Homo sapiens: one gene and its partner. The protein of the gene in region 1 interacts with the protein of each later gene in a pairwise test. Each region holds a gene or a part of one and is shown on either strand. Other genes may lie near its edges.

Region 1 (4,125 bases):
CATTTCAGCTTGTGGGAAGAATCTTTTTAATTGGATAAATTCATGTTCTGTATGAAATGAGATGAAATTGAGAAAGCCAATGATTTTTTTTTTTTTTGCAGTATCTGAATCTGACAAAACATTCAAAACTTATAAGTAGGTACAACTTATTTGAAAGGTTTAATCTGGTTAAAAAAAAATACGTGTGGGCTGGGCACGGTGTGGCTCATGCCTGTAATCCCAGCACTTTGGGAGGCTGAGGCAGGTGGATCACATGAGGTCAGGAGTTCAAGACCAACCTGGCCAACATGGTGAAACTTTGTCTCTACTGAAAACACAAAAATTAGCCGGGCATGGTGGCAGGCGCCTGTAATCCCAGCTACACAGGAGGCTGAGGCAGGAGAATTGCTTGAACCTGGGAAGCGGAGGTTGTGGCGAGCCAAGATCGCACCACTACATTCCAAACTAAGGCACAAAGACAGCACCTGTGAAAATATCTGGGCTAAAATATTTATGCAATTCCATATGCAAAGAATTGGACTTGAGAACAGCCTCTGCCTGGCAGAATTTGCTGAGAGCTTATCACTCAGAACCTGCACAGGGAACATTTTCTCAATATATTATGGTTCAAGAGAAGAGTCAATTGAAGGTACTAATTTAAATTTGTTAATTGTAAAATTTGTGGAAAAAAGATTTCAGGCAATTATATGGAAAAATTAAAAATAACAAGACCCCACTGAAGAAAATACATTCTTGTGAAAAATGCCAGTGACAGGGTATCAGTCAGGTACAAGAAACTGTAGCATGTGAATATACAACAAGAACAATTATTTTGCTTATCTTATTTTTAAATGTTCAGTTGATTAACATAAACATGTTTTCTTTTGCTTTAATATTCATAGGTGTATGCATATATATTTAAAGACTTTTTTGAAAATAGTTTTTATCTAGAACTACTTTATAACACCATCAATATAATATAACCATTTTGTTGGATTTTTTCCCCTTCCTTCCTTCCTTCCCTTCATTCCCTCCTTCTCTCCTTCCCTCCCTACCCTCCTTCCCTCCTTCCTTCCTTCCTTCCTCCATCCCTCCCTTCCTCCCTCCCTTCTTCCCTCCCTCCCATCCTGCTTTCCTTCCTTCCTTCCTTCCCTTCCTTCTTTCCTTCCTTCCTTCTTTCCTCTCTCTTTCTACCTGTAAATACTAATTTTTGGGGGAAATAATTTTTGACTATTGGGGTGCCCCGGCAGTGTGCACACACATGGCCTGACCATCCCTCTCCTAGCTATCTCTGATGATGGCCAGGAAGCTGAGGTCTATGGTGACAGAGGCTGGCAGGTGGGAATCTGTAGAATTCCCCGGCGATTGGTTGGGATTTCTCAGGGAGAAAGGAGGCGAGGTCCTGACCTGTGGTGGAGGGGCTGGGGCATTGAGAGTTTGAGAAGAGATGGGAGGGTGTTGAGCACTGATATGGTTTGGCTGTGTCCCCACCCAAATCTCATCTTGAGTTGTAGCTCCCATAATTCTCTCGTGTTGTGTGAGGGACTTGGTGGGAGATAATTGAATCATGGGGATGGAGAACAAAGCCAAGCCAATATCTTGACTTTAGCTCAGCGAGACTGAGTTTGAACTCCTGATCTCCAGAACTGTAAGATAATAACTTGCATCGTTTTAAGCCACTCACTTTGTGATAATTAATTATAGCAGCCTTAGGAAACCAGCACGGGGGTGAGGCTGCACCCTGCCCAGGAAGCCAGAGACGACCAGCTACGCAGGGACTTTAGCTCGAACCTGATTAGGTCAGTGGACACCGCCCCCATCCCCAGGACGGGGAGGTGGCTGGGGCCACTGCAGCCACAGCATGTGTCTGCTCACATGGGGCTTATTTTTAAAGGGATTGTCCTCACCTGCTGCTGTCTGTGTTTATAAAGTTGGCTAGAGAGGAGAAATCTTCCTTTGCCAGTTTTCAGCTTTAGCTCTGATATTTGCCTGGAACATAGTAGGTGCTCAATAAACAATATCTCTGGATATTGTTAGTAATATGTGACCCTATTTGAAGAACTCAGAAGGGGCACTGGGCAAGTCTACAAGAGATGGCAATTCTGTAATTCCTGTGTGGTATTTTCTGAATTCTGCACATTTTAACCTAGGCTATGAGACAGTGTGACTTTCTTCAACAAATTAGTTAATTCTTCAAATTAACTCCAATTTCAACAGCATGGTGATGTTAAAGGCATTGGAAATTCAGCCACAGATGTTAAAGACCATCAGCACGGTCACATAGTAAGATGCTACTTTCAAGCCACGAATAACCCAACCAGTTATTGGTCTTATGAAATCTTGTAAGCCATCCCAGAGAGACTAATTTAATTTTTATGATTCAGAATTTGCAGGCTGTAACTGGTCAGTCCATGCGAACTCTGGTGGCTGCATTCAGCCCTGACATGTTTCACCTGACTTTGATATAAGGAGCTACTGGAACCTTCCTACGAGTTCTAAAACCTTTCCCTCCTCCTCCTGTTCTGGAAAAGCAATTAAGACCCAAACTAGGCATGAAATAAAAGTCTCTTAAATTGATTTAGAATTATTTTTAAAAAGTACCCTCACAGAAGTGGAAAATTTTGCCAATAGGTAGGTGTAAAAGGAAGTTTTTTGTTTTTCTAAGAGACACAGATTTCCTCTCATATTGTACTCTCATAAAAGAAAAAAAAAAGGTGGTCATTTACTTACTCAGGCAGAAAATGAAGGCGTTCACAACTGTAGTTGGGTTTTCTGATAGTGAGAGCTGCTTTTGGAGGAGTTTTCTCTTCTGGGAAGTGCTGTGGAGATGTGGTTGCTTTAAATTATATAACCTCCGCTCCAGTGATGTCATTGTGGGGATTGCCGCAAAAGTGAGTCTTTCGGGACTCACTCCAAGTGGATTTGGAAGGAAAAATCCACTCTCATTTCACTTTGCACTTTAGGGATGATAAGAGATTATTCAGCTACCATCTCCCCCTTTACTTTGGTACCATCTGCAGAGGTCTGCAATCCTGCCCAAGACCTGTATGTTGGCAAACACGCCCTAAAAACATGTTTTGACATCGCCAACTTGCCCCAAGGCTCGCAAAGTGTCAGTGAACATTGAGGGATGGCTTTTGGCCCCTTCACTATTGGCTTCTGAATGTCTGGGGCTCTGCAGCAGCTTTTGTGGGAGCCACTTCGAATGGCCTCTTTTGAATTTTGGTCATGAAAGATACATCGCCAAGAATCCATCAGAGTGGACCCATCACACAAACAGAGAGCTAGGAAAACGTTTGACTCATGCAATGTTCAGAGTTGAGTAAGACCAGATACATTTTTTCCTAATCCTCCTTGGCGTCTCTCAAATTATGTCTGCATGGGTCAAGTTGAACTACTCAAGACCTCATGTTTCAGACAGTAAGATATTTTTGGCTTTGAGAATCAGGTGACAAGATTCTCCAACTGAAGGCCCCTTACCTGTCAACTTACAAATTAAGATCTTTCCAGGCCACCCCCTACACGTAGGAGAACTCATTCATGCCAGAATTCAGGACTTCGAGTCTGACTTCTGGAAAGGTGACCCTCCAAATGTTTGGAGCAGAAGGTGTCACCTCTGTCTTTAGAATCTTGCCTTTTGCTTGTGTTCCCTTTTTCTGCTAGTGACATCTCAGCGGGAGCCAACTGCACTTCAAGTTTTCCTGCTGTCTTCTCCTGTTGCTGAAGACCTTAAAACTGTGGAAGTAGGTGGAACAAATAGCATTCTGAGGCTCAGTAGCGGATGTACATTTCAGGGAAGAAGCTGGAATTTGCCTTAGAGGATAGGATGGTCCCCTCCTATCAGGAGAGACCTCCTGGGTGGGATTTTTAATAAAAAAAAATTGTCAACAGGCAAGCATCTTCCATTACTCCCGGGATAGATCTGAACCGGAGGAAGGCTCCAAATCTTAGCCTTTCCTGTTACTTAGTAATGTAGGCGGGGGTCTCTCCAGCCCGTGGCTGGCTTATTCTCCCTTCAGTATGAGTTTAGACTATACTGTTTCTGAGAAGCGTTTGTTCTTAGGAGATGTCTCCCTGTTTATTCACCCAGGAGTGCGTATAAGGCCAGCTCTGCCACAAAGAGCACGTGCAGGTCTCATCTCTGCT
Region 2 (3,500 bases), on another chromosome or scaffold:
CACAATGTTTGCAAATGAAAGCTGACATTGCCTTTTGACATGCAGGCCTGTCCATCCTCAGCTACTTATCAGGGTCAAGTTGACTTTAAATATCCTTGAGAGGGACCATGAGAAGTCAGTGTAGCCTTGCTGGATCATGGTTATTCAACCAGCTATTTCCATGGCTATAATGGAGAGGCTTGGGAGCCCAGATAAATCCCAGTTTCCTTTTCTGGGCCTCAAAGGCAAGCGCCAGACTTTATCTATGGGGACATTCTGCAACCCAAAACAGTCAGAACCCTTCTCAAAATCCTCTGGCGAAGTACCCACCTATCATCAAGCTGCTGTTGTTGGCTCTGAAGTGGTAAAGCAAATATCCACTTATATAATAAAGAGGGGAAGAGCAGAGGGAGATAAATCTCCAATTTCCAGATGTAAATGGTATCTATACATATTCACCTGTGAAAGATTAGGAAATGGAAACATTAGCTTATTTGATTTTCTTGCATCTAGTAATAAGTATTCAGTGATCTTGTGTGCCAAGCACTATCTGAAGTACCTTACATACATTTATTCATTTAATCTGTGAAGCAACTTCATGAAGTAGAAACCATTTTCATTATTTTACAGTTGAAAGGAGGCTTAGGGAAGTTATATAACTTGTCCAAGGTCACACAGTTTAAGTAGCACAGTTATGATTTGAACTCAGTGTATCAGACTCTCAAGCCTTCCATATAGCTTCCCAAAAGCAGATTACAAGAACCAGGCAAGGCACAGAATTTCACAGTAAAGCTTGTCCCTGAACATATGACCTTCAGATTAATAGTGGGACATGTAAATCATTATAGCCACAGAGAAACTTTAAAAGGAAAACAAAAAATACAAAATTAACCCTGATTTATTGGTGGCTAAGGACAGTTAGTTGCCCATGTATATTTGTGAAATGACTTATACAGGAGGCAATGCTACCATGATCTGTAAATTCTTAGATATGAACAAATATAGAATCATTTTGAATACAATAAAAATCTTTGTATTTCTAGCATCTTATAAATTACCAATGGCTTTTACATATCTTATCTCTTTTAATCCCCACAACAGCCCTGTGAGCCAGTCATTCTTGGCCTCATGTTATAGATGACAATTTTGAAGCTTAAAGAGGTTAAGTGACATACCCAAGATCACACAACTAGCAAAGCTGAGGCTCAGACTCAGGCTTTTTGACTCAAATGTGGCTTGTCTTTTACCAAACCACTTACCTCTCTACTGGGTTGTTTGGCTTTTCTCCAAAGCCAGGTAGAAGTTTTTCACATTGAGGTTTTTCAGAAATTCTTACTTAGATATTTCATCTTTCTGTAAAAGGCAGATTTATTGGCCCACAAATTTGGGGAGCCATATTCATTTTTATATTTGGCATAGCTTATGCCCAGGTCCTCTCCATAAGGGTGTACTTTTATCGAGTTAGAATTGTTGAGTTAGATTTAGATGTGTATATAGAATGTTCAAAGTAGCTTCCCACAGTCCGGTTTTCTCTTGGGGGTGAGGAGTTCCAGGCCTCCGAAGCCAAACCGTTCAGAATTGGTAGCCAAATACACCATTGACTGCAGCAGAGCAATGCAATTGCTGAACATTCCCCTTATACAAGATCAGTTTTGAATAAATGCATGGAAACACGATAAGCTAAGAGGCTCAATTTATCTTTGCTTATTAGTAGCTCTAGCCAGCATATGACCCGTAGTCTCTATGAACAACTCTTCTGATGGATTTTATATGCCTTGTGTGATGTGAAAGATGAGTAAACAAACCCTTTATTGGAAATACATGAGGTTTTGTGGGGGGAAGTAGGAAAGAATGTGTCAAATTGTGATAAGTGATACTGTGTAGAGTATTTCTGATTGAACATCCAGTAACTAACCTTTTAAGCTTCCGGTTTTTTGTTGGTAGCAGGCAGGAGAAAATAACCAGAGGAATGTGGATTGCTTGCAGCTAACCGGGACCTGTTCATCTGGTTAGTTTCTTTTCTCCCATGCTCTTGAGGAAAGGTATTACTCTTGGATTCCAGTTGGCCAAGAGGAAGGTTCAAGCTTTTTTTTTTTTTTTTTTTGAGATGGAGTTTTGCTCTTGTTGCCCAGGCTGCCGTGCAGTGGCTCAAACCAGCGAAGGCTCACTACAACCTCCGCCTCACAGGTTCAAGCGATTCTCCTGCCTCCTGAGTAGCTGGGATTACAGGTGCACACCACCATGCCCGGCTAATTTTTTTGTATTTTTAATAGAGACGGGGTTTCACCATGTTGGCTAGGCTGGTCTCGAACTCCTGACCTCAGGTGATCTGCTCGCCTTGGCCTCTCAAAGTGCTGGGATTACAGACGTGAGCCACCGTGCCTGGCCGAAGGTTCAAGCTTTTAAATCCAAATAGAATCTAGTGATTAGATTGATGCAGAAATTTAAACTGTACTTGGGCATCACTTGCTTCCATTGGCTCACCAGTGATTGTAGCTGATACAGTTATGTGACAAAAGATTCATTCATTTAGCAAACAAATCAGAGGTGCTTATTGTGTGTCAGGCACCAGACATTGATTTTTCTTTTTAGACATTGATTTTATATTAACTATTAGTTTCCATGTTACTTTACCTTGAATTGGGTCAGTAGATGAGAAATTTTCCTGGGGAGACACACTCTTCAGAAAAGGTCTAATTTAGGGAGGTGTTTTGAATAAGATTAATTTCCCAAATTTCAACAAAACTTTGTCCAAGAACATCATACAAAGTGTCTACCCTACGCTTTTATTCCAATCATCAAATCCTTTAGAGAGATTCCAAGGATTATGTTTCACTGAGACTGATTTTATTTGCTAATGCCAATTTTGGGATTCAATCAGTTTAAATTAGAAATCTGGAAGGGCCCTTCAGGATTGGAGACTAGATTGGTTTCTAGCTAGACACTCCCACCTTTGCAGTTTCAGGGTAAACTTTCTTTCCCAAGAAATAAAAGCATGTATTAAGAATGCTGCTTCTGCCAAGACTCTGTGTAGACCCAGCCACCATTGCCAGATAGTCTGAAAAAGTATAAAAAAATTAGCCGCCCCTCAGTGTGTGGTCATGAAGCAGGGCCAGGGGCACTCTTTAGGTATACAGCATAAAGTATGTCATAGATAGTAAATACTGGAGTTTAGAATCCATTTGTAAAGAACTGTCAGCTTGAGTGTATTAAGGCACAAAAGCAACTTCTGAAACACAGGCTTGATATTTGTTGCTGGGGCTCTGAATCATTTTGGAGTACCAGGACACTTAGCAATAGGTGGGATTATTTTTTCAGGGAAAATAATGGTGTTCCATTCTTAGGGTCATAGATGACTAGAAAAAGAAAGGTCCAAGGCTTAGAAGAAAGATCAGCTATAGATTGGAAATAAGCTGAAAGCCAGATATCCCTCTCACAGATTGGCACAGCTCCATGTAGAAGGTCTGCCCAGTGTGTTGAGGTGGGGCGAGAAGTTGGCATTGCTGACATTGCGCTTCTCC

Evidence for each region. The genes of interacting proteins can lie anywhere in the genome.
Region 2: the proteins of BDKRB1 (region 1) and SLC25A28 interact in a two-hybrid assay, tested with the Homo sapiens proteins (one large-scale study listed by BioGRID and IntAct).

What each region holds. Positions count from the first base shown.
Region 1 is NC_000014.9:96,254,885-96,259,009, reverse strand, and holds the start of BDKRB1 (B1 bradykinin receptor), read right to left. Parts: upstream 2,801-4,125; 5' UTR 2,710-2,800; intron 1-2,709. UniProt on the Homo sapiens protein: This is a receptor for bradykinin. Could be a factor in chronic pain and inflammation.
Region 2 is NC_000010.11:99,613,940-99,617,439, reverse strand, and holds part of SLC25A28 (mitoferrin-2), read left to right. Parts: intron 1-1,926; exon of another isoform or gene 1,927-1,987; intron 1,988-3,500. UniProt on the Homo sapiens protein: Mitochondrial iron transporter that mediates iron uptake. Probably required for heme synthesis of hemoproteins and Fe-S cluster assembly in non-erythroid cells.